Linked DNA regions of Homo sapiens. The protein of the gene in region 4 purifies or fractionates together with the protein of the main gene of each other region. This does not show direct contact. Each region holds a gene or a part of one and is shown on either strand. Other genes may lie near its edges.

The links.
Region 1: the proteins of CKAP5 (region 4) and INTS7 purify together in Homo sapiens (affinity purification with mass spectrometry; one large-scale study listed by BioGRID and IntAct). This does not show direct contact.
Region 2: the proteins of CKAP5 (region 4) and DDX31 purify together in Homo sapiens (affinity purification with mass spectrometry; one large-scale study listed by BioGRID and IntAct). This does not show direct contact.
Region 3: the proteins of CKAP5 (region 4) and SCIN fractionate together in Homo sapiens (co-fractionation; one large-scale study listed by BioGRID). This does not show direct contact.
Region 5: the proteins of CKAP5 (region 4) and FYB1 purify together in Homo sapiens (tandem affinity purification; one study listed by IntAct). This does not show direct contact.
Region 6: the proteins of CKAP5 (region 4) and SLAIN1 purify together in Homo sapiens (affinity purification with mass spectrometry; one large-scale study listed by BioGRID and IntAct). This does not show direct contact.
Region 7: the proteins of CKAP5 (region 4) and TAP2 purify together in Homo sapiens (affinity purification with mass spectrometry; one large-scale study listed by BioGRID and IntAct). This does not show direct contact.

What each region holds. Positions count from the first base shown.
Region 1 is NC_000001.11:212,025,342-212,029,565, reverse strand, and holds part of INTS7 (integrator complex subunit 7), read left to right. Parts: intron 1-3,883; exon of another isoform or gene 3,884-4,005; intron 4,006-4,224. UniProt on the Homo sapiens protein: Component of the integrator complex, a multiprotein complex that terminates RNA polymerase II (Pol II) transcription in the promoter-proximal region of genes.
Region 2 is NC_000009.12:132,662,981-132,667,204, forward strand, and holds part of DDX31 (ATP-dependent DNA helicase DDX31), read right to left. Parts: intron 438-4,224; exon of another isoform or gene 392-437; intron 347-391; exon of another isoform or gene 245-346; coding exon of another isoform or gene 242-244; intron 1-241. UniProt on the Homo sapiens protein: May have DNA helicase activity and RNA helicase activity. Probably have ssDNA and RNA dependent ATPase activity. Plays a role in ribosome biogenesis and TP53/p53 regulation through its interaction with NPM1.
Region 3 is NC_000007.14:12,625,982-12,630,205, reverse strand, and holds part of SCIN (scinderin), read right to left. Parts: intron 3,623-4,224; coding exon 3,407-3,622; intron 1,106-3,406; coding exon 984-1,105; intron 1-983. UniProt on the Homo sapiens protein: Ca(2+)-dependent actin filament-severing protein that has a regulatory function in exocytosis by affecting the organization of the microfilament network underneath the plasma membrane.
Region 4 is NC_000011.10:46,835,881-46,840,104, forward strand, and holds part of CKAP5 (cytoskeleton-associated protein 5), read right to left. Parts: intron 1-4,224. UniProt on the Homo sapiens protein: Binds to the plus end of microtubules and regulates microtubule dynamics and microtubule organization. Acts as a processive microtubule polymerase. Promotes cytoplasmic microtubule nucleation and elongation. Plays a major role in organizing spindle poles.
Region 5 is NC_000005.10:39,104,449-39,108,578, reverse strand, and holds the end of FYB1 (FYN-binding protein 1), read left to right. Parts: intron 1-316; coding exon 317-348; intron 349-1,113; coding exon 1,114-1,136; 3' UTR 1,137-3,327; downstream 3,328-4,130. UniProt on the Homo sapiens protein: Acts as an adapter protein of the FYN and LCP2 signaling cascades in T-cells. May play a role in linking T-cell signaling to remodeling of the actin cytoskeleton. Modulates the expression of IL2. Involved in platelet activation.
Region 6 is NC_000013.11:77,756,298-77,760,521, reverse strand, and holds part of SLAIN1 (SLAIN motif-containing protein 1), read right to left. Parts: intron 1-4,224. UniProt on the Homo sapiens protein: Microtubule plus-end tracking protein that might be involved in the regulation of cytoplasmic microtubule dynamics, microtubule organization and microtubule elongation.
Region 7 is NC_000006.12:32,835,653-32,840,509, forward strand, and holds the start of TAP2 (antigen peptide transporter 2), read right to left. Parts: upstream 3,088-4,857; 5' UTR 3,001-3,087; intron 2,586-3,000; 5' UTR 2,582-2,585; coding exon 2,089-2,581; intron 2,000-2,088; coding exon 1,885-1,999; intron 122-1,884; coding exon 1-121. UniProt on the Homo sapiens protein: ABC transporter associated with antigen processing. In complex with TAP1 mediates unidirectional translocation of peptide antigens from cytosol to endoplasmic reticulum (ER) for loading onto MHC class I (MHCI) molecules.

The DNA.
Region 1 (4,224 bases), on a different chromosome or scaffold from region 4:
GAAGCAAAAACTTATTTCCTAGTTTCCCTTGCAAGAGTGCAGGATCTGACTTAGGCTCTGCCAGTCAGACACACCTCCTTCACACTGTCTGATTTAGAAGTTAGAGATGCAAGAAGGAAGAGTTGAAGTGTCCACTCACAGTTCTGCCATGGCAGCAGCAGTATTTCTAGCTTACAGCAGCAACAACAATGGCTACGATATTCCTAGATGACAGCAGAGCTAATTGTTGCATCTGGTGTTTCCTATCAAAGACAGGGTTCTTCCATCCAGTTGGTTGGGTAGTGTGGTATTAGGTGTTCCTAGAAATTTAGCCTTAAAATTGTTTCTTAAGCTTTTAATAAACTCATTTTCTGCCTCATAAGCCAGAGTTAGCTTCTGTTGCTTGCAGCTAAGAACTGCTGATAGATGCTACTTGGAGATTTGTGCTGTTTTGAAAACTTGATTAATGTGTATCCCAAACCCCAAGTTTACCATAATTTATGGTATTCCCCTAATTCCCTAGAATTCATCACCTCAGAATTCCACCATTTAATCACTAATTTAAATGTCTCATTCTTGAATCTTAATCTCTTTCTTTCTAGTTGCTTGCTAGAGATGCATTTTAGCATAGTGGTTAGCACTATAGCCTTTGGAGCTACATTGCCAGAATTTGAATCCCAGCTCTGTCATTTGTCAGCATTGTTGTTTCTTACGCAAATTGCTTAGCTTGTCTGTGCCTGTTTCCTCACCTTTCAAATGGGGAAAATAATGGTACCTAATTTATGTGATTTTTAGTGAGACTTTAATACATGCAAAGTGCTTAAAGTGACTGGCACAGAATAAGCACTTCATGTGTATCATCATTATCATTATGATTAACTGCTATTTTGGCTAGTCTTTATTTTCATTCAGACCTCGGTATTTCACCTCTCTACATTTCTGTACCTGTTTTACTTCTTTGTTCAGCTTAGATTTCATGGTCCTTCATTTTATTAACTGCATTTACTTTCTTACCAGTACTTTAAATTCACATCCAAGGTTCCATTCTACTCATGTATCCCCAAAGGCAGTCAAAAATTGCTGCAGAAAGTCATACAGTGGGGTACATGGCTATCATCATAAATGGGAGCCGAATCTACACTGACCTTCAACATGGACCTGCAGTACTGTAATGTTTCTGCAGTACTACTATGTTTCTTTGGTCAGACACTTCTACCTTCTTCAGTAAGATTTTAGATCTTTTACTTTTCTAAAACCAGAGATCCTGGGGTTTTATGTGAAGTATGATTTGTAAAACTTGACAGTGTGTTCGAAACCTTTAAAAACATTGTGCCAGATAAAAGCATTCTGAGGACCAAATTCAGCAGCCTAGTAGTTTTCTAACTCCAGTATAATCAGTGTGGGCAGGCTAGTTAAATAAGTTATCAAGTGGCAGAAGTTAACTTGAGAATCTAGGTGCTGGCTGGGCGCAGTGGCTCACGCCTGGAATCCTAGTACTTTGGGAGGCTGAGGCGGGAGGATCACCTGAGGTTGGGAGTTTGAGATTGGCCTGGCCAACATGGTGAAATCCTGTCTCTACTAAAAATATAAAACTTAGCCAGGTGTGATGGTGCACGCCTATAATCCCAGCTACTCGGCAGGCTGAGTCACAAGAATCACTTGAACCCGGGGGGCGGAGGTTGCAGTGAGCTGAGATTGCGCCACTGCACTCCAGCCTGGGCGGCAGAGTGAGACTGTCTCAAGAAAAAAAAAAGGAATCTCGATGCCAACCTTTTCAAAGTAGTTAAACAGATGCCTGGGACTCTGCCCCATATATTTAGTAGGTTTGGAGTAAAACCCATAGCATAGATATTTTTCAAAAACTTAGCAGATATTGCTGATGCAGAACCAAGCTGAAAACCACTAGCCTGGCAAAAAGCTCTGCACACTTTAAGTGCGAAATAATGTTAGAATAATGAATGCTTTACTACTGCCAAATGAATTTTGAATGAATAAATGATTTTACAGCCTATTTTAGTTTCCCTGGTCTACATGCATGTTGCAACTGAGTTAAGCACTGTTTAAGTCCAGGCACAGAAAAGGAAGAGAGATCTGTTTTTGTTTTTGTTTTTTTTTGGTGGAAGAATACAAAATAAAATGTAGGTATAGCAATCACATCCCTCCTTCTTAATCTTATCTCTGGGCTTACAGTAGTATTCTTATGATTAGTGGTCTTATGACCAGGGCATTCTTCCTGTAGCAAGCAATACAAATAAAATGTCTAGCCCCTCTTATACTAGAACTGGAACGTGCTGAGCTCCTGTTTTCCAGTGCTTACAAAATTGGCCTAGAGCAAGCAAGATGAGTACCATACTACCCCAACCCAGGGCTGTTGCTAAGTAATAGGCCTTTAAAGCACTTTTTCCTTCTTTTTCACCTTAGCTCCTGTCCTTCGGAGCCAGCCTGAATTCTCACTACCTCTTTCCTAAGGAGGGCTCTTACATCAGAAAATACAGAAGAGGTTTAATATTCTTTAGTTCATTTACCCCGTGGCGTTGTTACAGAGGAATGAGAGTCTATTTTATCTCAGAGAAAAAAGTTTGATGATATTAGATAAATCAAAACATTCTCTCGCTTCATTCAAAATAATCTTTGGTACATTTTAAATCAGCATGTTTAAACAAATCAATATGGTCTTTGGTTCTGTTTTTCAAGGGAAGATAAAACATGATTATATTCTGTCAAGGAGACTACCTGTACATAGGCTGTTTCCTACTATGCCTTTTTCATCTCAGCCAAGGTTAATTCATTACAAACAGAACTTTACCATCCTTTGTATCTAACTCAGCTACTGACAGTGAGAAGAAAATGAAACAATCCAATTACTGTGGATTTTTTCAACCCCTTTGCCAACACATATACGTAAGCACACATCTCTGTTCCTTCTCACCTCCATCCTCAGCTATGTCTTTCCCCTTCTCTGCCCTGTGTGTCCCTTGACCCGTTTTTCATATCAGGCTTTTAGAAAAGTAAGGCTACATGAGCCACACTGCCAGCTACTTAGAATTATCCCTTTTGGCGTTGTGTTTGATAGGAAAAGGATTTCTAGAGCTTCAGAGGCAGTTCTTTGTGTGTGTAAGAGGGTGAAGGGGAGGAGGGAGCAGATGAAGGAGGGATGTGTTCTATCTCAGTTAGAAATGTTAATTAATTTTCCCATAGAAACATTTATTATAAATGGTTATTAGGTTCCAGAGTACTGTGAGTGCCGATAGTGCTATTATTTTCCTATGAGGAAATAATGTTCTAAGTACTGAATAACTAACATGAGTGCATTACGGAACATCACCCATTAGTAAATGATAGAAATTACCTATGCAGTTTTACTTTGTGGTTGTCTTTTGTATGAAACATTGTGGCAACTAGGAAAAGCCTTCAGATTTCCTTTGTCTTTTTGTTTTTTTTGGAGACAGGGTCTCTGTCACCCAGGCTGGAGTGCAGTGGCGTGATATTGGCTCACTGCAACCTCCGCCTCCCGAGTTCAAGCAGTTCTCATGCCTCAGCCTCCCTAGTAGCTGTGATTACAGGTGCCTGCCATCACGCTGGGCTAATTTTTGTATTTAAACGGGGTTTTACCATGTTGCCCAGGCTGGTCTTGAACTCCTGGCCTCAGGTGATCTGCCAGCCTCGGCCTCCCAAAGTGCTGGGATTACAGGCATGAGCCACTGTGCCTGGCCTCCTTTGTTGTTTTTTTTAAGAATAATCAAAGGTTACTGGACAGAGATATTCTAAGATACTTATTCCTGTGAGGACATAATCAGCATTTTGTGACTGGTAAAATACTAAACAGAGACATTTGAAATTGATGCTGTTAAATCCTTACCAAGGTATTCATTCTTAGTGAATTTTTTTTTTTTTTTCCTGGTACAGCTGTGACTCCAGGCAGGATCCAGAGAGGAGTTTTCCAGTCTCTTCTCTGGGTTTTGTAGAGACTTACTTTATCCTTCTATGTTAGCTTCTTAAAGCACCACATCAACCTTAAAAGGGCATAAGAAAGGGCAAATTCTTAATGCATTTTTTAGAAAATTGAATATTAACTCTTTTTTCTTGGTTGGGTTTTTTTTTTAATTTTTTAAATATCAGATTTAGTGAGGTATAATTTGTATCAGATAAAATTCACCAAATGTATGCAGTCATGAAACCATGACCATAGTCAAGACATAGAATATTTCCTTTACCCCAAAAACTTTCCTCATGCCCCTGTGCAGT
Region 2 (4,224 bases), on a different chromosome or scaffold from region 4:
CAGCATTTTTCCAGTTGAATGTTAACTAATGGAGTCTGTTTTAAGGGAAGCAAGAATCCACCTTGTGAAGGGTGTGTCAATCCATATTCCTAGGAACCCATTCACCCAAGGAGAAAAGAGGGGTGGGGGAAAACGAATCTTTTCTCTCCACCAACAAAGCACACTGGAGACCGCACAGGAGAGAGGGGCGAGGGGGAATGCGCATCTCAGCCCGTGCCCAGGAAGCGGAAACATTCATTACCATTCTACCCTAGCGCCTGGATCTCTCTCATTCTCTCCTCTCAAGCTGCTCCTCCAGATTCAGACGGCCTGGAGAAAATTCCTACGCCCTGTTCCCATTCCAAATGAGAATGCTGCTCCATCCATCACCTCTACCACAATTACTTCCTACCTCCCTTGCCTTTCGAGTCTCTGAGTCCCCGAGTCTCTGCCTGATTGCGGATTACAGGCTACACAGCACTAGGGATCTCTTGCCTGTTGCTTCTTATTTCCATTACAGGAATGTGCTTAAATGCATGATGTCCAAACTTCCCCTAGGAGAAGGAACATCCAATTCCTCTATTTTCTTTGGCCTTCTTTTCTGATTTACAAATGAATATAAAAGCATCCCTTGAGTAGCCAGTGCTTGTTATTCTGGAGTTTTGGGTTCTCTCAGAATATGTTATTTTCCTCTTTGCTTGAAATAATGACTTGGTTTTACATGTCGGCTTTCTTTAGCCATGACTGTCAGCTTCAGACTAACCTACCAATAACAACAGTTCTTTGTTCCCTAAGGATTCTTTTACCTAAGTAATTAAATACAACTTCAAATATCTAATATTAATAAAGTAAAAACGGACATATTCCATCTTACAAATTTATTTTTTACAAAATCTCAAGTTTATGAATTTTCAGATTAAAGAAAGAGATGAAATCAAGTTTCAGGTTTGTTGAATCATTTGCAAGACAGTATGAAATGTGCAGACTTCACCTGATTTACAGACCCAGGACTCCTGGAGCACAAAAACTCTTAAAGGCCACTCCCGCCATACATGGACTTCCTGACAGTCCCGGGCAGGTGGACTGGCAGCCTCTCCCTGCACACCTCCTGCATCCCATGAGGCAGCCCATTCTGTTCATGACCCATTCTAGGAATCAGGAAGCTGTCTCTGACATTTATGCAAGATCTGCATCCTTGAACATCTACCTAATAGTCTGAGGTATACTTTCTGCAGCAACACAGAACAAGCTTACTTCCTCTTAACACATAACATTCCTTCATATATCACATAACTCTCTTTTCTTTCTTCTTTGGACTCAATATTTCAAACAGGACACAACTTTAGATCCTTTATCATCTTGGTCACCCTTTATTCCTATGTCAACATCTCTCTAAAAGCAAGTACTCAGAGTTAAACCCATTAGGTTTTCCATTGCTCTTAGGCTGAACTAAAAAATCTGTAATATTGCCAGGTGCCATGGATCATGCCTGTAATCCCAGCACTTTGTGAGGCTGAGGTGAGCTGATTGCTTGAGGCCAGGAGTTCGAGACCAGCCTGGGCAATATGGTGAAACCCTGTCTCTACAAAAAAATACAAAAATTAGCTGGGCATGGTGGTGCATGTCTGTAGTCCCAGCTACCTGGAGGCTAAGTTGGGGGCATCACCTGAGCCCGGGAGGTCAAGGCTGGATTGAGTCGTGATGACGCCATGATGCCACTGCTCTCCAGCCTGGGTGACAGAGTAAGACCCTCGCTCAAAAAAAAAAAAAAAAAAAAACTGTAATATGATCAACAAAGCCTTCTAGAATCTGACCTCTGGCCACCTCACCAGCTTCAGCTTTACTCTCTGCCACTCGGGTCTTCCTTCAGTTCCTAGAATGTGCTGTGCTCCTTCCTCCTCCTTTGCACATGCTACTCCCACATCCAGGACTCCACTCTGCCCTCTGGCTGGCCACCCTGTACTCATCCTTCAGATGGAGGCTGACCAACTCCTTCCTCAGAAGAGCCTTTCCTGACCTCTCTTCACCCAGTCAAGCCAAGGTGCTCTGTTCTTGGCTCTCCTGGCACCCGTATTCTCCTCCATAGCATTCGACAAAATAATAAGCATAGCACGGAACTCGTTGTTTTATGTCTGTCTTTCCCGTTAGATTGTAAGCTCCACAAGAAAGGGGCCAGTCTGTCCTACATAGCACTGTATCCCCTGTATAGGCCCCTGTCTGGCAGAGTAAGCACTCAACAAATACTTGTAAGATGAATGAATAACACACAATGGAATTATCCCTTTCCACCAGCTGGATACGGTTCTACTACTTGTTAGCTTTTCTCCCCCAGCATCCAAAACACATTCATTTAGCAGTTGTCAAGAAGCTTCGTTCTGAAGATACAAAGTAGATTTGCCAAGCCCTTGAGGAAGTTACACACTAGCAGAGGAGACAAAAGTATAAAGGCATAAATCCAACCTCTACATTGGTGCTACAGAAGAGGTACATAAAAAAGGCTATGAGAGCACCAACAAAAGCTAGACTAACATGGCCTCCTTCTGGCAAAGGAGAGGGAGGCAAGAAAACCAAGAATGCTTCGTGAGGTAGCCTCTGAGCAGAGAGGGAGCAAGGACATATCTGAATCTACTAAAAATTACTACTAAAAATCTAAAATCTACTAAAAATCTACTAAAAAATTCGTTTGAGTCTCTGTTGCCGCACCTGTAAAATGAGGGGATTTTGGCAGATGACCTCTAGGGCCCATCAAGACCTGAGAGTCTAAGATGCCATGGCTTTGATATTAATAAACATACTGAGTAGTTACTATATGCCAAGGAGTATACTAAGTACTCACATGTATTCTCTCATTTATCAACACAGGTACTGTTATCATCTCATTTTAAGATGCAAACATGGAGGCAGAGATGTGACGTAATTTGTCCCAGAATCACTGAAGGAACCAGGCTTTCCCCAGGCATCATGATTCTACATTCTAGAGGCCTCACAACAATACTATAATCCCTTTTATTAACTGCATCCTCTTTGCTTTAGAAAACATGTGTATGCTGGAAACTTACTCTTTCTGCTCAACATTATAGTTTTGCCTTGTATAGTCTTAATCCACATGGATTTGGTTTTTTATACATAGTGCGAGATAAGGTTCCAATTTCAGTTTTTAAATTCACACAACCACACAACCAATTGTTCCAGTGCCACTTATTAAAAATGTCAGCTTTTCCTAAGCAATTTGCAGTGTCATCTCGGTCATGAATAAAATTTCCATTTTTGTATTGGTCTGCTTCTGGGCTCTCTTTTCTCCTTTGCTGGTCAATTTGTACAGTTTTGCACCTTATTCCAGACTGTCTGAAGAAATAGAGCTTCATAATAATTCTTAATTTTTGATAAGTTAAAAAAAAAAAAGAAAACATCATGTGTAGTGATTCCAATTTTGAGTTGTTCTCTAAAAGGACATACACCAAAATGGCAACAAGCATTGTCTGAGTATGGCAATTATGAGTGGGTTTTTAAAAATCTTTTTTCCTAATTTTCTATAATAAATTTGTATTAATATCAGAAATTTTTTTTTGTTTTGCTTTTGTTTTGAGACAGTCTCACACTGTCACCCCAGCTGGAGTGCAGTGATCTCTGCTCACTGCAACCTCCACTGGTTCCTGGGTTCAAGTGATTCTCGTGCCTCAGCCTCCCGAGTGGCTGGGATCACAGGCACCCACCACCACACCCAGCTATTTTTGTGTTTGTTTTTTGTTTTTGTTTTTTTTTTTTGAGACAGAGTCTCGCTCTGTCGCCCAGGCTGGAGTGCAGTGGCGCAATCTCGGCTCACTGCAAGCTCCGCCTCCTGGGTTCACAGCATTGTCCTGCCTCAGCCTCCCGAGTGGCTTGGACTATAGTCACCCACCACCAGCCACCACACCCGGCTAATTTTTTGTATTTTTAATAGAGACGGGGTTTCACTGTGTTAGCCAGGATGGTCTCGATCTCCTGACCTCGTGATCCACCGGCCTCGGCCTCCCAAAGTGCTGGGATTACAGGCGTGAGCCACTGCGCCAAGCCTTTTTTTTGTATTTTTAGTAGAGATGGGGTTTCACCGTGTTGGCCAGGCTGGTCTCCAACTCCTGACCTCAAGTGATCTGCCTGCCTCGGCCTCCCAAAGTGATGAGATTACAGGTGTGAGCCACCTCGCCCAGCCCAGAAAGTATTTTTAGAGAGAAAATTTCTGCATAGTGTTAGATACAGCATAATTTA
Region 3 (4,224 bases), on a different chromosome or scaffold from region 4:
GACTGGGCTCAAGGCACTGGGCAGTGTGGATGACCAGACTATGGGGATGCATGTGACTGTCTCGGTGTGAGGTTCACCAAAAAGAAATGTCACCATATCAGCAGAGGACTGAATGCATCTATATTCTATATACCTATTATAGGTTGTTATCACTATGTAGGCAAAGGTAGGCGTCTGCCCTGCCTTTGTACCTTACGCCCACAGCCCACATTTCTCTGCTTGAAGATCTTTTTTAAGAATTATTTTCTTTTTTCCAGCCGTCTTAGCAATATTCTATTTTTACCTGATTTCACTTAATAAAAAGTTAGAGAATTTCACATTATATAATTTGTTGCAGAATCCCTATCCCTTGACATATCCTAGCATGGTGTATGCACATAAATTACTTGGTTGGACATTTGATCATTTCCTCCTTGAGCAGGGCATTGGCAAATTTAGACTTCAATTAAATCATCATGCAAAACCATGTAATATGAAAACACAGTTGCATATTTTTTCCATTATTCTTGTGAATTTAATGGAAACAAGAATAAGAATTGCATCAAGTTGAGGTATCAGTGGAATCACAAATTGTATCTCCTACAGGTTTTGCCATATTGCAACTTTGCAGTTCCAATTAGGATGGACCTCTGTGAATTTTAACCATAAGAAACCATGGTACCTGACACTTGCTGTTGCAGTGTTAACCTGCATACAAGATGAGATATTCAACTACATATCCACTAGGAGAACATCACTGGTTTAGGATATCAAAACTTTTTGCCTAGACTAGATAGCATGATCTTTATGTGACTCCTGCTGCCTGTGGATGGCAACTGCAAAACATAGTCAAAATCATGTAAAAAGAAAATACTATATGCATGCTATACAAATCTCACTGGGATGATTATAGGATTATTCTACCCCATAATGCATAGAATTTAATACTTTGGAGCAAAATCTGGCTCCTGTGGAACTCGAGATCTTTACCCGTATAAACTCACCACGTGTAGATAATCTGTCCTCTGGGATAGGTGTAGAGTATGATGTAGCAGTCACCACCATAGAATTCACCATATGAGTTTTGGTCAACTTGGATCCTACCATTGTTTTCTACACGCCAAATCTGGAAGGAATGGAATATATACAACAAATTACAATTTTCTTGATCTAATAATATTTCTCATAAGCTTTAAATAATTTTTGGTTCAAATCCATTATTAAACAACTTTTAAATTATTTATTAACTAGTTTACAAATCAAGCAAAGAAATTGTTATCGATTTGCCAATTTATTGACATTTTAACTACTTTTATGTGTCTTTTGCTTCCTCTACAGTATTAAGCTCAGTTCCGAGCCCATTGATTAATAAATACTTATTGTTTCATCTACTAGTGGAAATAACATGACACTCCAGTGGAATAAAAAACTGCAAGATTCAGCTCAGAAATATATATCTATTTTATAGTTAATTTTTTTCTTCAATTATGAAATAACATATATATATATTTTTTTCCCTGTGCTTTAAGATAGCGGACTATTATTTTCCCAGGCAAAACTTGATAGACTGTGACCAAATACTAAAAATGCTACAACACACTGAATGTTTGAGTCCCTCCACAATGTATGTTGAAATCCTAACCTCCAGTGTGATGGTATTAGGAGGTGGGACCTTTGGGAGGTAATTAGGTCATGAGGCTGGAGCCTTCATGAGTGAAATTAGTGCCCTTATAATCAGAAAGCTCTCTAGCTCCTTTTCCACCATGTGAGGATGCAGCAAAAAGTCTATGAACCTGAAAGTGGATCCTCCACCAAACACTGAGCCCATCAAAACCTTGAGCTTAGACTCCCCAGCCTCCAGACTGGTGAGAAATACATGTTTCTGCTTAAACCCCCAATCTATGGTACTTTTGTTATAGTAGCCTGAACAGACTAAGACCATGCCAATAATATGACTTCTGTTTTTAAAAGGTGCCATCCAGGAATAAGACCGAAATGTGATGCTGGGAGAAAAGCAGGCAGAACCACTTTCATTCTGCCTCCTCATCTTCAGCACAGATTAAACACCCTCCAACTTGGAGAGATGAGAATTGTAGATGAAACAGGAGAGTAACAAACGAAGGAGAGGCTGCCAGGCACTGTGTGTGTACATGCAAGCAAACACACACACACACACACACACACACACACACACGCGCGCACACTTGCCTAAGTTCTCAGTTGGGAAGGGCAGACTCTTTGCTTTGAAATCTGAAGATAAGCAAGTGGACAGGAACAGTGCAGTGCTTCTAGAGAGAGGCCACCCCATACTATCCTAGTGAGCAGAAGCCTTAGATCCTAGAGAGAGCACAAGATCCGAGAGAGAGCCCCCAGATTTCAGCAGCCCTAGGATGGCACAGGAGAAGGCTGCAGCCAGGACACAGCTGGTGCTGGGGACCAAGTTTGCCAGGAGGGCTGAGCTCTGGCAGGAATGTCTGAGCAGGAGACAGATGCAGACCCAGAAGTCAATACCCCTCTGACAACAGCCATGAGGGACATTTGTGACCTTCTCCCTTGGCACTTCCCACTCTCCAACACCCATGCCGCTTAGATTCACGCTTCACGTCTTTGAAAAGAGGAAAAATTATTTCCCTAATTTCTTGACCATATACTTTGGTCCAAGAATTGTAGTAAGCCCTAGGAATATAGAGATGAAATATTTCATTCCTGTCCTCAAGGAATCGATGAGAGCTCTAGGAGAAATCTGGCAGTAAATGAACAACTCTGTGGTAGGTATATGATAAATTATGTGAGAAGTATCGCTAGAGGTTGAGCACAGAGAAAGGCCACTTCAGCGCTGAGGGAAGCCTTCTCAGAAAAGGTATGGCTTGTGATTTAACTGAGTTGCCAAGGAGGCGTAGGAACATTAGCTAGATGGCAGAGGGGAAGTCAGTCCTCAAGGCAGTGGAAGGGTGAAGCCAAGATGACGGAAAGGGTCAAGGGTCCAGCTGAAGATGGATCTTCTCAGGAAGGCTGTGGAGAGCCATTAAATATGTATAAATATATTTAGATATACATTTATAAATATATATGTATATATACACACAGATATATGTGTATATATACACATTTATGTGTGTGTGTGTGTGTGTGTGTATACACACATTTCTCACTCTGTCACCCAGGCTGGAGTGCAGTGTTATGATCTTGGCTCACTGCAGCCTCCACCTCCCAGGCTCACGCGATTCTCATGCCTCAGCCTACCAAGTAGCTAGGACTATGGGCGAGCTCCATCACACCTGGCTAATTTTTGTATTTTGAGTAGAGGTGGGGTTTCACCATGTTGGCCAGGCTGATCTCGAACTCCTGTCCTCAAGTGATCTCCCCCACCCTCCCCCTACATACACTGGCATTAATGGGCTTGATAAAAACAAAAACAGGTAAATACCTCCACTTTGCCAGAACCATCATCCACCATATTGTGCTGGGCTGCCATCTGCGGAGAACTGTGTAATTTTGAGGCATCAAAGGGAATTTGTTTTATTTGAGCCACTTTCTCTGTGACATAAACTTTCCCGAAGCCATCACTCTGATCTTTATCTCTCCAGTCCTTAAAAAACTGTTTGAAGATTGGTGTTTCACCTCCTTCTGGAAGAACTTGAATCTGAAATTTAAAATAATAATAATAGTAAACAGGAAAATAAGAAATTAAGGGAAAATATGAATCTGGCAGTGGAGACAAAAGTAAGGAAATGGAAAATTATCCTGGTTTAGCTATCAAGCTCATATAATCCAAAATTGCTTTTTCTCACAACTAAAGTAATTGCCGCTGAATTTGAATATTTGAGAGAAGAATCAAGTTCTTTAATATGTTACCCCTGCAGTAAAATAAGTTTGTCTTTCTACATAAGGTTCACAAGAGCTCTGTGACCTGGAAGAAATGATCTCATTGTGTTCCTTGTGCAGGGACATAAAAATGAGGAGAGTAGATGAGGCTGAGAGATTCGGAAAGGAAAGGAGTAACTAGCCAGGGTCTAAATTGATTTCGATGAAGACAAATATCATCTGGGTTTCAGGCCAAGTCTGCACAACTTGCTCTAAGGAATAATAACTCTTAAGTGCTCTTAGCTAAACCTACTGTGGTTTACTATCTTGAATTAAAGGCTGTGGAGGAAGTGAATGGGCAGCTCTATGGAAAGTCTGATGTGCAGTTTCTAAAAAATTCTAACCCCCACGCAGATAAAGAAGAGGGACACCAGATTGCAG
Region 4 (4,224 bases):
AGTGATCATGGTTAATATCACTAATGATGTCACATGGATATCACAAAACCCCTGATATGATATGGTATTCTATGGTATTCTTTCCAAAAACACGTAATTCTTGACTAATCATGAGAAAAATATCAGACAAAGACAAAGAGAAGGGCAGTCTACAAAACAACTGACTAGTACTCCTCAAAATGGTCATGGTCATGAAAACAAGGAAGGACTGAGAAATTGCCAAAGACCAGAGAAGGCTAATAGAGATGACCACGAAGTGCAATATGTTACCCTGAATTGGATCCTGAAACAGAATGGGCACATGAATAGAAAAACTGTTGAAACACAAACAGAATCTGGAGTTTGTTTAAACGATGTTAATAACAGGGCACACTGGGTGAGAGGTATGCAGGAATCCTACACATCATCTTTGCAACTTTTCTGTTGGAACAATCTATAATTATTCCAAAATAAAGTTAATTTTTAAAAAGTTTCCTCTTAAAAAACTAACATTTATTTTCAAAAAAGGTAATGTCGTGAAAACGAATAATTTTAAAAAGTGAGAACACTAGGTCAGGCACAGTGGCTCAAACCTATAATCCTAGCATTTCAGGAGGCTGAGATGGGAGGATTGCTTGAGGCCAGGAGTTTGAGACCAGCCTGGTCAACACAGTGAGACCCCATCTCTTTAAAATAATAATAATAATAAAGTGGGGACACTACATACCTACCAGAAGGGCTAAAATCCAAAAACCAGATAGAACTAAGTGCTGTTAAGAACGTGGAGCAAGAGGAACTCTCATTCATTGCTAATAGGAATGCAAAATGGTACAGCCACTCTGGAATAGAGTTTGGCAGTTTCTTACAAAACTATAACTAGTCTTACCATATGATCCAGCAACCTGCTTCTAGGTATTTATCCAACTGAATTAAAAATTTATGTCAGCTGGGCACAGTGGGTTGTACTGTTAATCCCAGCACTTTTGGGAGGCCAAGGCAGGAGTTCGAGACTTTTATGACATAAAGAGTGAACTTTAATGTATGCAAATTTTAAAAAGTCATTTAGGAGACTGGGAGATTGCAGAAAAGAATGAAGACTATGACAAGGGAATCTATATTACAGATGTGTGAAACAACTTCACCAAAGGGGGTGGGAAAAAGGTTCTGACCTAAGTAGCTTTGGTAATGAGTGGAGTCTGAAAGATTAAGGGCAAAAGGAACTGCACAGAAGTATGTACTCTAGTTGATAAAGTTTTTTTCATGGAGTATGGGTTAGCAATTCTGATACTGCTATCCATGTATGTATATCCATATATAATGGAACTGGACAATTAAATAAATGGATGGTGGAAATTAGGTTTTTCACTATTGTGAATGGAAATTCAAAGATCAGCAAGGGGAGGAGGCTAGAATGATCTATGTGATAATGGATCAGAATTGGAGACACCAGTAGGAACTCATGTTTTTCCCCCCCGCCCATACTACTGAAAGTGATCTATGGAACTCGTTTAACTTAATATAGACACAGATGGCTACATAGAGAAATATTTATAGATATGTCTATATACATGGGGTTAGCATACATTCATATATTTCTTTGCTCTAACAGTTGAAAGGACCTAAAAGAAATGACACCCCAGTAGCAAAGAGAACACTCAGTACCCAGGTCTTGTTTCTAATAGCATTCTCCAATAAGGGAACCAGGGCACCTTGGGGAAATGGCTGATTCTAGCACTGGGACAAGAAATACACAAGATGAGCCTGGAACATTTCCAGATAGTAAGGAAGTACTCAAAGATCAATACAAATACGCGCACACACACACACATGTATGTTAAAGGAATACAGGAAGCTCCCAAAGGACAAAGCTGGAACAACCTGAACAACAAAATAATGTAATATTGGAGTGTAACCTAAAATATAAAATAAATATACTTGAGTCCACACTATTATCAGTAAATACTTGACTAAACTAATAAATGGGAAAGGAGAGACAAGAATTTCAAATAAATTAAGTAGGTACTCCACCCTAAGATCAAGGAACTCCCCATTCCTTAAGTGTGGGCTGCAAACAGTGACTTCCCTTCAAAGAATACAGTATAGAAAAGGAGGGGAAAAAAAAGTAAATTCACTGTAGAAACCTCACAAACACTATTTCAGGTCAATATGAACAGTCAAGGTCAATATTAAGTCATAAATCATGTTGATAGCATGTACCCTTGATATGATGTGATGAAAATGGCACTTTACCTCTGTGGTCTTCCTGCCCAAAACCTGTAACTCCAGTCTAATGAGAAAAACATCAGACAAATTCCAATAGAAGGACATCTTACAATGTATTTGACTAGTACCTCTCAAAACAGATTAAAATTTTTTTAAAAAATTCAGATGTATAATTTTTCTAGCTTTCTTAAAGACTTTCTGAACTAGTCTAAAATAATTTTAAGACTAATTGAGACTGTTAAGATACTGCTTACACCCAAAAACACAGGAACAAGCCTGGTGCAGTGGCTCACACCAGTAATCCCAGCACTTTGGATGCTGGAGCGAGAGGATTGTTTGAGGCCAGGAGTTCAAGACCAGCTTAGGCAACATACTGAGACTGTGTCTCCACAAAAAGAAAAAAATGACAGCCAGACACGGTGGCTCACGCCTGTAATCCTAGCACTTTAGCACTTTGGGAGGCCGAGGCAGGCAGATCACTTGAGTCCAAGAGTTCAAGACCATCCTGGGCAACATAGTAATACCTTGCCTCTTCAAAAAAAAAAAAAAAAAAAAAAAAAAAAATTAGCCGGGTGTGGTGGCACTCGCCTGTAGTCCCAGCCACTAGAGGCTGAGGTGAGAGGATCCCTTGAGCCCGGGAGGTGAAGGTTGCAGTAAGCAGAGATCAGGCCAACACACTCCAGCCTAGGAGACAGAGTGGGACCCCATCTCAAAAAAAAAAAAAAAAAAAAAAAAAAATTGCTGAGCCACCATTGTCGCAACATTTTTAGAATATAAAAATAAAAAAAAATAAATAAAGACACAGAAACACAGCCAACTGAATAGTCAGATACTGTTTTTATCACTTTTTTGTTCAGAGAAGATGATGCCAGTTTTGGCCAATTTTGTTCAACAAATATTTTTGACCACCTAGTTTGTTGCAGGCATTGTTGAGTCACTGAGGTAACCTCAAAGGAAAAAAAAAATCTATGTTCTGCTTTCATTTTTATGAGAAAATCTAACAATATATAGACAAACAATAAACAATTACATAACAATATATGCTATGAAGTAAATAAGGAAAAGTGAAGTAAAAGTGACCAAGAGGGCTCCTCTAATTCAGAGCTCAGAAAAGTGTCTCTTTAAGGAGATGACATTTAAGTTGAAGCCTGAGAGTGCCAGTAATACAGGCTGGGGGTAGGGGTAGAGTGAAGTGAGAAGTTCCAGAACAGAATGCAAAGACCGAAAAGAATAAGCGTAATGTGTTGGAGTTATACACATCAAGTAGGTAGAGTAACTGCCCTGATAGAAATGAGCTAAGTAATGTATTCTAAACTCCAGAGGCAAGAATAGGAAAATCATTTAAAAACCTTAAAACTCTCCAACATTGACTACCAAGAATCCTAATTAGATTAAGAACTCAATTTTTATGCGTCCCTTTAGCTACCCACCGCCACCACTGTCACAGTTGTCCATCTTCCATATGGTAAATGCCATCTTTCCTCTAAAAACTATCATGCCTGTCATTCATATTTCATCACATCTCCGATAGAAGTACTTTTTTAAAAGGGGCTGGGGGAATTCTACCCAGAAATTGCTCCTGAATTCTCCTACAGATCCCTACTTCACGTAGTACAATCATAGGTTAAGAGCAAAGGCCCTGGAGACAGACTGACTTGGGTTTGAATTCAGATTCTATCACTTAGTTCTATGATTTTGAGCATGTTGCACAGCCTTTTAAAGACTCAGTTTCCTCATCTGTAAAACATTGTGAGGATAAAAAAAGATAAAATGTAGCGGGACATGTTGGCTCATGCTTGTAACCCCAGCAATTTGGGAGGGTAAGGAGGGCAGATTGCTTAAGCCCAGGAGTTTGAGACCAGCCTGAGTAACATGGCAAAACCCCATCTCTACAAAAAATACAAAAATTAGCATGTGCCTGTAGGCCCACCTACTTGGGAGGCTGAGGTGGGAGGACAGATTGAGCCCAGGAGGTTGAGTCTACAGTGAGCCATGATCACACCACTACACTCCAGCCTGGGC
Region 5 (4,130 bases), on a different chromosome or scaffold from region 4:
TCCCCAATGGGAGTATTGTACCATGATGTTTAGTACATTGTTAACAAACATGTCTTATAAAGATGAGTAAGGCATAGTCTATGCTCTTGAAGCATGTTTTAATTATTCTGTATGTAAAATGAAACAGAGGACTAGATTAAGTCAATGAAAGAAGAGATAATGAATATCAAATTTATTTCTACTTATAAATGCATACTATGCTTAAAAGTCTTAATTGTGTCTTATAAAATTATACTGTTACTCTATTCTTCTATATATTGCTCTAATGCCAAGAACATAGTTTCTTTAAAATAAAAATTTTTTTTTACATTTACAGTGATGGAGAGATCTATGATGATATTGCTGATGGTAAGTCTTATGTAGTACCACCCTAGAGAACAGTCATAGTGAATTTACTGTTTTTATAAATGCTAAAAATAGCTTGTTGGATTAGAGACTTCCAATCTGATCAGAATTTGAATCACTTGAAAATGTTAGAAAAGGTAAATGCCCTGGCATAATGGGGGGAAAATACCGCATTTCCCACAAGATGGAAAATTAAGGAAAAACCTTATTTATTTCTTTGAAAACAGAAGTATAAAAATATTTGGGAAATTTTTTATTGTACTGTGACTCATAATAAGAATTTCTTTTATCCAAGCAAATAAACATTTTTGGCAAATAAATAGGTACTTATTTCATAACCAGTAATACCAATATTCTCTAAGCATCATATAGTTCCAAACTGTAATCTAAAAAATTAATCTAACTGAAATGATGCAGTGTTGATCATGATTTCCTTTAGTCTTTTAAACTTATGAGTCTTGCTCTTTAATATCTTCAACCTCGTTCAGAGTGACTACCAAAAAGTATATGACTAAGTGCCACATAAAATAATCTTGAGTCTCATTTTAATAGAGAATAAATCTGTCCAGAAATTTTGTTGAATTATATACTAAATAATAAAAGTTAAATATATGATCTTCCATTTAACTCATTTTTTATAAAGTGAGCCAGTTCTATTTTTTTTAATCCTTAACCAGGAGAGTATGAATCACCCACATTTCCAAACTTGGAATACTTAGAGAATATGTTTTTAATAACTATATTTAAATTTGTATTTTTTCCTTTCAGGCTGCATCTATGACAATGACTAGCACTCAACTTTGGTCATTCTGCTGTGTTCATTAGGTGCCAATGTGAAGTCTGGATTTTAATTGGCATGTTATTGGGTATCAAGAAAATTAATGCACAAAACCACTTATTATCATTTGTTATGAAATCCCAATTATCTTTACAAAGTGTTTAAAGTTTGAACATAGAAAATAATCTCTCTGCTTAATTGTTAACTCAGAAGACTACATTAGTGAGATGTAAGAATTATTAAATATTCCATTTCCGCTTTGGCTACAATTATGAAGAAGTTGAAGGTACTTCTTTTAGACCACCAGTAAATAATCCTCCTTCAAAAAATAAAAATAAAAGAAAAAGGAAAATCATTCAGGAAGAAATGACCTGTCTAAAAAAACCTAAGGAAGAATAATAATATAAGAAAGGAAATTTAAAAACATTCCACAAGAAGAAAAATTATTGTTTATACTTCTACTTATGGTTATATCTTATATTCTCTATTCAAGTGACCTGTCTTTTAAAAAGGCAGTGCTGTCTTACCTCTTGCTAGTGGGTTAAATGTTTTCAAAAATTATAGCAGTAGTAGAAGTTTTGTATAAAATTTGTCCTTATTTGTTAATTGTATATAAATGTTAATTATTTGATACGAATGTTATGCATTTAGTATGCACATTGAAGTCTAAACTGTAGAAGAGTCTAAAACAAGTTCTCTTTTTGCAGATTCACATACTAATGGTTTAATTCTGTGCTCTGTTTAAAGTACTATTATAACTAGAGTAGATCTGAATGAGGATAACCCTAAAATCATGAGGAATGGAAGAATGGACCTTGAAACTACCTAGGCTTTTATGCATGGCACCTCTTTATAATGAAGACACTTTTTAAAGTTTTTGTTTTTGTTTCAATTACCGCTAGATTTTTTTTTCTCTTTTTTTAAAATCCATTTTACTGGAAAGTTGGCCAGCAGAGGGAGTAGAAATTATTAAAATTCTAGTGTTTGGATTGGGCCCTTCTCTAACAGTACATACTCATTCCCAAAGCAATCCAAAAACAAAATGTGAACCATTTGGGTTTCAAATGTTAAGAACACTAAATAGCATGATTTAAAAAATGAAAAATGCTAACACCCAAGAAAAGAAGATATTAAGTGCTTTTTAACAACTCCTAGAGTACAAAATGAGTACATCATAATGCTGGCTCTTCTACTAATGAACCATCGAGTGATATTGAATAAATTATTTATCTTCTCAGTTTCCTTATCTGTAAATTACAATATTAGACTAAGTAAGTTTTTCCAACTCTTCACTACCAATTACCTTAGGCTTTTATAATGCTCCGCCTACTTCAGTCCCATGTTTCAGAAGCTTTTGTCTATTTTTTAAACTCATTGATTAAATAATGATTAATGCATTCTCCACATTTTAATATTGCAAAGGCCCATTGGAGTTTCTGAAGTGGCTCCACAGAATTGAAATAATTTCAAATAACTGTAAAGGAACTGAAAATCTTCACAGAGATGAAGTGGGGTTTCCATTAGGTGCTTTGAAATTTGATAACAAATCATCAACTTCCACTGGTCAATATATAGATTTTGGGTGTCTGAGGCCCCAAGATTAGATGCCACTAATCTCCAAAGATTCCCTCCAATTATGAAATATTTTAATGTCTACTTTTAGAGAGCACTAGCCAGTATATGACCATGTGATTAATTTCTTTTCACACTAGATAAAATTACCTGGTTCAAAAGTGGTTTTTGTTTATTAAATTTGGTAATAAATATATATAATACACAGACAGGATAGTTTTTATGCTGAAGTTTTTGGCCAGCTTTAGTTTGAGGACTCCTTGATAAGCTTGCTAAACTTTCAGAGTGCCCTGAGACACTTCCAGCCATCCCTCCTCCTGCCTTCATTGGGGCAGACTTGCATTGCAGTCTGACAGTAATTTTTTTTCTGATTGAGAATTATGTAAATTCAGTACAATGTCAGTTTTTAAAAGTCAAAGTTAGATCAAGAGAATATTTCAGAGTTTTGGTTTACACATCAAGAAACAGACACACATACCTAGGAAAGATTTACACAATAGATAATCATCTTAATGTGAAAGATATTTGAAGTATTAATTTTAATATATTAAATATGATTTCTGTTATAGTCTTCTGTATGGAATTTTGTCACTTAAGATGAGCTGCAAATAAATAATACCTTCAATGGATAACCTTGCCTCCTACTTCATTAAAAAAATTGAGGCTAGCCAGATGCGGTGCCTCACATCTGTAATCCTAGCACTTTGTGTGGCCGAGGAGGGCACATTTCATGAGCCCAGGGGTTCCAGACCATCCTGGGCAACAAGGTAAAACCCTGTCTCTACAATAAATACAAATAATTAGCTGGGTGTGGGGGCACATGCCTGTAGTTTCAGCTACTTAGGAGGCTGTGGTGGGAGGATCACTGGAGCCTGAGAGGTCGAGGCTGCAGTAAGCCATGATTGTGCCACTGTCTCAAAAAAATTTACCCTGTCTCAAAAAAAAGAAATAAATATATTTTTTTAATATTGAGGCCATCAGGCTTCCTCTCTCTTAACTTGATCCTACATCTACAAAACAGTCTTTCTCTGCATCCAACCTTGACTCTAGCTTCAGCCTCAGAAGACGGGATATCTCCTCTTCAAGACCAAACCTTCTACCAAGACTCCTAATACTTTGACTCCTATTTTGTGTCAGAAATTAAGATAACTAAACGCAATTCCTTTCAATTCCCTACAACCTTTGACCTTAACCCATATCCAGACACTGTCCCAGAGAATAAGATGTCATGCCTTAAATTCAAAGCCATAACCTTTGGATCCCATTTCTTCCTGCCTTTTCTGGAGTGTTTGTCTTTTACAATTCATTCTTTCCCATTCTCCTTCTCCTTTTCTGCCTCCCTCTGGCTATCCCTCTTCTTTATCTTTAAGTTCTCCCACTGTGCAGATTCCTTTCTCTAGGCTTACAAACACTGAAATCTTTCCCATCTAAAAAG
Region 6 (4,224 bases), on a different chromosome or scaffold from region 4:
TTTGCTTGCTAGACATTAGGATTTCTTGATGCTTGCTTTGGTGGTGGTTCCAAGAAAATAAAATGAGGAGATACTTTAATAGTTGTAATTACAGAAAAGAAGACAAGGTGGTATCTGTAGGTACAAACAGTTTATTACAGATATATTCCTTAAATAATATTCATTATGTCATTTATCTATCTGAGTTGCTGGGCATTATTACATTTATAATAGTAGCAAAACCTATAAAATGAAGGGCACTGGGAACTCTCTGGATAAGAACCCTTAAAAATTTCATCAATATACTGATCCAACTTTGTGTATCATTTCACATTAAAAGTAACAAACTGGTAGGCAGAAGTTTTTAAATTTTTTAATCCCTTTCTCCAAGGAAAACAATCAAATTTAATAGAAACTTATGCACAGAATTCTGCTTACATACTAACTACCCAAGCCTTTGATGCCTAGTACTGGCAACATGGTTAAACATGGACATACCCTGTTTTCTAAAACAGTTGAATTTACTTAATCATGAAATATATAAATACTTTTTTGAAATAAATATAAGGGGGAAAAAGACCCAAAAAAGTATCTATGGTTTTATTTATCATCTCTTGAAAATATTTCCTTAAAAATAGTTTTTCCTTAAATTTTTTTTCCTTAAAAAATGTGTTTAATTATACAAGGCAAAATCTATACACAGAAATACTGATACATGTGCTATCAAAAAGATAACACATCATGATCAAGCAGGTTTCATCCCAGGGATATAGAAATGGTTTAACATAGGCCAATCAGTAAATGTGGTACATCACATAAACAGAATTAAAAACCAAAACTATATGATCATCTCAACAGATACAAAAAAGCATTTGATAAAATCCAGCATCCCTTTATGATAAAAACCCTCAACAAAACAGGCATACAAGGGACTTACTTCAAAGTAATAAAAGCGATATATGACAAACCCATAGTCAACATCATATTGAACGAGGAAAAGTTGAAAGCATTCCCCCTGAGAAATGGAACAAAACGTCCTTCACAACAATGTCCACTTTCACCATTTCTAGTCAACATAACACAGGAAGTCCTAGCCAGAGTACTTATAGAAGAGAAAGAAATAAAGGGCATCCAAATTGGAAAAGAGGATGTCAAACTGTCACTGTTTACCAATAATATGATTAGATACCTAGAAAACCCTGAAGATTCATCCAAAAAGCTCCTAGATCTGATAAATGGATTCAGTAAAGTCTCAGGATACAAAATCAATGTACACAAATCAGTAGCACTGCTGTATACCAACAACAACCAAGCTGAAAATTAAATCAGGAACTCAATCCCTTTTACAACATCTATAAAAAATAAAATAAAATACTTAGAAATATACTTAACCAAGGAGGTGAAAAATCTTACAAGGAAAACTACAAAACACTGTTGAAAGAAATCACAAATGACACAAACAAAACACATCCCATGCTCATGAAATGGAAGAATCAATACTGTGAAAATGACCATACTGCCCAAAGCAATCTACAGATTCAATGCAATTCTATCAAAATACCATCATCATTCTTCACAGAACTAGAAAAAACAATCCAAACAATCCTAAAATTCATATGGAACCAAAAAACGGCCCACATAGCCAAAGCAAGACTAAGCAAAAAGAACAAGTCTAGAGGTACCACATTAACTGACTTCAAATTATACTACAAGGCTATAGTTACCAAAACAGCATGGTACTGCTATAAAAATAGGCATATCGACCAATTGAACAGAATAGAGAACCCAGAAATAAACCCTAATACTTACAGCCAACTGATCTTCAATAAAGCATACAAAAACATAAATTGGGGAAAGGACACCCTATTCAGTAAATGGTGCTGGGAAAACTGGCAAGCCACATGTAGAAGAATGAAACTGAATACCTACCTCTCACCTTATACAAAAATCAACTCAAAATGGATCAAAGACTTAAATATAAGACCTGAAGCCATAAAAATTCTAGAAGATAATATTGGAAAAATTATTCTGGACATTGGCTTAGACAAAGAAATCATGACTAAAATCCCAAAAGCAAAGGCAACTCAAACAAAAATAAATAAATGGGACCTAATTAAACTACAAAGCTTCTGCACACCAAAATAAATAATCAGTGAGTAAACAGATAACTCAGAGTAGAAAAAAATATCTGCAAACTATGCATCTGATAAAGGACTAATAGCTAGAATCTACAAGGAACTCAAATAAATCAACAAGAAAAAAAACAACTAATCCCATCAAAAAGTGGGCAAAGAGCATGAATTGACATTTCTCAAAAAAAGATACACAGCCAACAGACAAATGAAAAAATGTTCAACATCACTAATCATTAGGGAAATGCAAATTAAAACCACAATGAGATACCACCTTACCCTGCAAGAATGGCCATAATTAAAAAGTCAAAAACAATAGATTCGGTGTGGATGTGGCAAAAAGGGAACACTTTTACACTGCTGGTGGGAGTGTAAATTAGTAGACCCACTATGGAAAACAGTATGAAGATTCCTTAAAGAACTAAAAGTAGAATTACCATTTGATCCAGCAATCCCACTACTGGGTATCTACCCAAAGGAAAAGATGTCATTATTTGAAAAAAAGACACATTCATACGCATGTTTATAGCAACAGCATTTGCAATGGCTTAGATATAGAACCAACCTAAGTGCCCATCAACCAACGGGTGGATAAAGAACTGTGGTATATATACACCAAGGAATACTACTCACCCATAAAAAGAAACAAATTAATATTTTGCAGCAACTTTGATGGAACCAGAGGCCATTATTCTAAGTGAAATAACTCAGGAGTGGAAAAGTAAATATCGTATGTTCTCTCATGTAAGTGGGAGCTTAGCTATGAGGATGTAAAGGCATAAGAATGAGATAATGGACTCTGGGGACTTGTGGGGAAGTCTGGGAGGGTGGTGAGGGATAAAAACTACATATTGGGTACAGTGTACACTGCTTCGGTAACAGGTGCACCAAAATCTCAGAAATCACCACTAAATAACTTATCCATGTAACCAAAAACCAGCTATACCCCAAAAACTATTGAAATAAGAAAAAAAAAAAGAAATGTTGATACATGTGTATAGTAGTCAAAAAGCTTTATAAAAATAAAGTCTATGTAAGATCCTCCCTTAGGTGTGTTCCCATTTAGCTTTGTGACACAGCAAAGTCCTCTTGGTTGACGAATCATCTCTAAGATTCTTTCTAATCAATTCTGTAATGCCTTAATTTGCTAGTTTTTAACCATGCAAATATTTAATATACTAGTTCAGCAACTGTAACAAGTCTACTGCACTAACACAAGATGTTAATAATAGGGGAAACTAGGAAGATACAGAGGGTGAGGGATTACATGGGAATTCTTTGTACTTCCTGTTCAATTTTTCTATAAACTGAAAACTGCTCCAAAAAAGTGTTAATTTTTTAAAAACCTTCAACACATGAATTTGGCTCAATTTCTTCTGAAGCATAATATACATAAAATACATACATCTTAAGTCTACAGCTCAGTGAATTTTCAAAGTGCATATGTTCATGTAACCACTAATCATATCAAGATAAAAAGCATCACCAGCACCTTACAATGCTCTCTCATGCCTCTTCCTAGTCAAAACTCCCCCAAAGGTAAGTGTTATTCCCACTTTTATCACAACAGACTGTTTTTCCCTATTTTGAGCTTCCTAGGAATAGACTTATTAGTATGTTAACCTTTTAATCTGGCTTCTTTCACTCGACACTTTGTCTGTGAGATTCACCTGTGTTGCTGTATTACTAAGCAGTATTCCATTGTATAAATGTGATTATTCCCCTGATGACAGAAAGCTAGGTTATTTCTAATTTGGGGTTTTATGAACCTCCTTGAACATGTTTTGGTGATCATATGCACTCATTATGTTGGGTAACTATTAGGAGATATTAATTTAGCAAAGTTGCTGGATTCAATATCAAAACACAAAAATCAATTATATTCAAAATACCAGCAAACTAGTAGAAACTGAAAGAAACCTGAGGAAATACTATTTATAAAAATACTACTTATTAAAAATCACAATACCTAGAAATTAATTTAACTATAGAAACATAAAACCTCTATATAGAAAGCTACAAAACTTCACTGATATTAAAGACCTGAGTCAATGGAGGACTATTACATATTAATGGATGCAAAGACTTAATATTGTTAAGATCTTCCAAAAAT
Region 7 (4,857 bases), on a different chromosome or scaffold from region 4:
CTCCTGGAAGAAACCGAGGTCCTGGCGCAGCAGGGAGGAGAAAAGCTGCTCCCGGATCCGCAAGTTGATTCGAGACATGGTGTAGGTGAAGCAGCCTCCTCGGCAGCCTGCAGACAGTGAGCTGTGGGGTAGGAGAATAAGAGGGGAGGGAGATGCAGAGAAGGAGCAAGCCAGCGGGTGAAACAGAGGAGCAAGCCAGGAGTGCAGAGAAGCGCAAAGTCAGGGGAAAGCATGCCAGGAGGGGCAAAAGAGAAAGAAATGAGAGACAGACACACAGAGAGAGAAGAGGTAAGGAATACACAGAGGAAGAAGAAAGAGGAGACATGGTGAGCTAGATGTGAGAACAAAATCATAACATGTACAAATTTACAAGTATTTATGGAGTGCACTCTGTACTAGACACAATAGAAAACTACAATAGAAGGGAAAAGATATTGTGAAAACAAGTATCCCAGTGCTTGCTTCTGTCCCAGCGTCCCTCAGGCTTGTCCCTCTGTGCGTCTCCTCCGCCTTGGTCTCCTTCCTGCCCCATACCCAAAGCCCTTCTCTGTCATCATAGATACTTCATCATGGGAACTGCAATAATAAATTCCCTGCCCCCACAATTCTCTGGAGCCCCAGAGTCATGTGATTCCCATCTTTCATCCTTCGAGTTGGAAAATCCCTCTTAGACCAACTACATGCTACAGTAACACTTAGAGGAAAAAATATAAAGCATAAAAGCATGTATTTTACAAAATATATGTTTCTAATACAAATTTAGTTACCATATTGAAGAGGCGTTTGGGAGAGTCAGACATGATATAATGAGGGTTTGTACTTTAATGACAGGGATGTGTTCTGAGAAATGTGTCGTTAGATGGTTTCATCGTTGTATGAACATCATAGAGTGTACTTACACAAACCTAGATGTCATAGCCTACTGCACACCTAGGCCATGTAGTTTAGCCTATTGCTCCTAGGCTACAAATCTGTACAACATATAACTGCACCTAACACTGTGGGCGACTGTAACACAGAAGTAAGTATTTGTGTATCTAAACATAGAAAAGGTACAGTAAAAATATGGTATTATAATCTTGTGGGTCCACCATCTTATATGTGGCCCATCATTGACCTAAACTTCGTTATGCAGTGCACGACTGTAGTTTCAGCAGAAAGCAGCCAGGATGGAATGAAGGCACAATGAAATGGTTTTCGAGGGTACTCTAAATTAAGTATGACCATAAAAATAGAGACAATCAGGCCGGCTGGGATTTGGGTAAGGTGAGTGCACACCTCCTTAAACTTTGCACCCCAGGTGCCTCGCTCACCTCATCCCAGTCCCAGCCTTATCAAACAGTTTGTTTGTTTGAGTATGTCTAGAAAGAGAAAGGAAAGCAAGTGAAGGGAAAAGAGTAATGATTCTGGAAAGAAAGGTGATAAGCCTCAGAGTAAGATCTTCAGGGACTGGCAAGATGAGCTGGGAAAGAAGAGTGAAAGGGAGAAGCATACCCATCCTGAGGGAGTGACCCTGGAGAGATACTTTGGAGACAGACTTAGGGGTAGGAGGTAGGAGGCAGAAAGAAATGGAATTTCATGGACCTAGGAATGTTGAGAGACAACTGAGAGACATTCCATCTGAGACTTAAATTCCTTTTGTACTACCTTCACTCATAACTTGTTCCTATAATAAGATCAGATAAACTTTGAAGATATTGGATGAATATGAACGAAGGAAGAAATGAATGGATAGATGAAACAGAATGGTGACTACATTCACCATATTTTAGTTTAAGTATTTTTGTGTTTTGCGCCTGAAAGGGCCTAGAAATGGAGTTAGGGAAGTGAAGACCCCTATAAAGATTTGGGGCTAGCAAATGGACCCAGCTGCCCACCACCTACCTGCCAAAGGAGAAGAGGCACATGAAGAAGATGGCACTGGCAAAGGCATGGGGGTCAAAATCACCTCCCAGGATGTCAATCACACGACCAGAATAGTGAGGGATTAATGTCTCACCTGAAAGAGGCATGAAAAATAACACAAGAATGTGCTGGTGCCCAGGCCCTTTTACCACCTCCAACTCACAACGTCCTCTCCTGACTCACCCAAAACAGCAAGGACAAGGAAGAAGAAGGCGGCAACGAGGAGAGGCAGGTCCGGCCTGGAGAGCTTCAGCAGCCTCCACATCAAGACTTTGTTGTTCACCTGGTCCTGCTCCTTCTCCTGGGCTCCAGGAGGGCTCAGAACAGCCCACAGTGACCAGCTGAGCCCCGCAGCCCCGTACCCCACCAGCAGCCAGCTCCAAGGGGCTGAAGCGACTCTGGCTGGGGGAGCACGTGAGGCCCCCGCGACCAGGGCTCTCAGGGAGACAGTCAGGGGGGTGGCCAGACAGAGCGGGAGCAGCAGTGTCCCCACAAATCCCAGCAGCCCTCTTAGCTTTAGCAGCCCCCACAGCCCTCCCAGCCGCAGGGTCCCCTCCAGCCATAGTCCTGGCAGCCCTTGAGGAAGCAAAGTCCCCAGAGGGCCCTGAAGCAGCCACAGTAAAGCCGCGTCCACCAGCAGCAGGGAGGTCCAGGGTCTCAGGTCAGGGAGCCGCATGGCTCTGTCAACGGATACGAGATGAGAAATCATGGGGGTGGAGTCCCAATCCTTGTCCCTGCCCTCCTACCCGCCCGGCTCCGCCTAACCCGTCCATCGGCTTCTCATTTTATCCTATTCAACCCTGAGAGCTCTCCTGAGTAACCGGTGCTCATCCGTACACCCCTCCTACGACAGACAGCTTTCGGCCTTCTGGGGAGCTGGAAGCATGACCATCAGGAGCCTCGTGCTTAAAAAAAAAAAAAAAAAATCCCCGGACCCCCACCCCCACCCCCGCCTGCCGCGGCGAGCTAAGTGGTCCGGGCTCCGCTCCCTCCTATCGCCGGGTGCAGAGGGACTGGGAAGCAGGAGCGTGGAGTGGGTAGTCACTTGGGCTGCGTCCCTGTTGGCGCTCCAGGTTCCCCTCCGCACCAACTCACCAGCCGCGGCGGGGAGACCGCAGCTCCGGGGACTTCTGCTTCAGCGCTGAGGTCCGCTCCGTCTCTCCCAACCTCGCTACCGGCTCTGGTCCGCCAGCTACGCTCGGCCAGGGCGGGCGTCAGGGCTCGGGCAGCTTTCGCTTTCGCTTCCCCAGCCAAGGCCTTCATTCTGGGCTGGGCCGCCGGGAGGGGGCGCGCGAGACCCGCAGACAGCGGAACTGGAGCCCGAACTCTGGTTCGCACTGTACAGGCCTGCAATGAGTCTCACTCGCCTTTAGTGGCGGTTACTCTGGGATATAAAACTGCAAAAATGTTTCTTTATCATTAAGTAAAATACAGTTGTCTCAAGGGCAACTTTATCTGTTGTCCTTGCTTTGTAATTGGAGAATGCTTTGTAATTGGAGAATCACTGAATTTTCTCAAAGTTACTACTTCAAGCTCTGAGCCTACTATTAAGAAGTGCCTTCTTTCTGGTCCGGCGCGGTGGCTCACGCCTGTAATCACAGCACTTTGGGAGGCCGAGGCGGGCGGATCGCCTGAGGTCAGGGGTTCGAGACCAGCCTGGCCAACATGGTGAAACCCTGTCTCTACTAAAAATACAAAAATTAGCCAGGGCGTGGTGGCGGACGCCTGTAATCCCAGCTACTCGGGAGGCTGAGGCAGGGGAATCGCTTGAACTCAGGAGGCAGAGGTTTCAGTGAGCCGAGATCGGGTCATTGCACTCCAGCCTGGGCGACAAGAGTGAGACTTCGTCTAAAAAAAAAAAAAGTGCCCTCTTCCATGCAAGCTCCAGTTTTAGGCGAGCGAGCCGGGCTCTCCTAAATAGAAGGTTCCAACCAATCTCACCAGGCCAAAGGGGATTTTCACGTACAGACTTTGAATTTAGTAGGCCCTGAGCGTTCATCTTCATCCGTCCTTCTCAGCCGGAGCACCTTGAGCTGGCGCGTGTTCAGGTGCCTCTGAGTCTGTACTCCAAATTATGTTGGGCGCACCTTCAGCCTATGAGGGAAATGCCCCGTACTGAGCTTTGGTTCTTGTTCTATTTTAACACTGTTTAGAACAGTAATTAGGTTTTTAAATATCCTTCCTGACCCAGAGCCTTCCTATGCAACAGAAAGATTCGTTTATTCCAGAAAGGACTCTTCAGATTGAAACCACCTCCCAAACTAAAAACAAACAAACAAACAAATTCCCCAAAGGAAGGGTCGCTTGGATTCCAGATCACCATTTTGAAATGTTACCTGTGTGACTACCAAGGAGTCACTTAAAGTTTAAAATAGTGGTGGTGGGGAGGAGGGATTTTAAGTAGGGGCTCGCTAAAGTTTTACAACTCTATTCATTCTGGCATTTTAAGAATCTCTCTCTAATGAAAAAAGCTCCATGCTCAAGCTCATGCTCCTACTTTCAAGCATTTGTTTCCTTTATTTTCTGGAAAGTGACATGGTCCATAGTTCCAGCATGATTCCGAAAATCTCATGATGTGTGTCTCTTTCTTCTAACCTGGATCTTTTACATTTTCCCCACACTCCTCACTTAGGGGAGTCCTCCTGATCTCTTCTTCCTCTAAAATTATAGTCCTGCCATCTTGCAATTCAGCATGACACATCATGAAATTAGACCCTTAATGTCTGTCTTTATATTCAATATCCAATATCTCCAAAGTGTTATTTGGGATAAATGGTATGGTGTTTATATGATTACCATATTAAAGTGAAGTGGAAGCTTTTTCATCCTACTCTATAAAGTCAAAAACAGTTATCCTAGGTGCCCTACTCCCTGTTCCTCAAACCATTAACAATGGAACACACAGGAGTCCCCAGGTGCCTCTCTATGGAAAGGACCCTAACCTATGTGAAA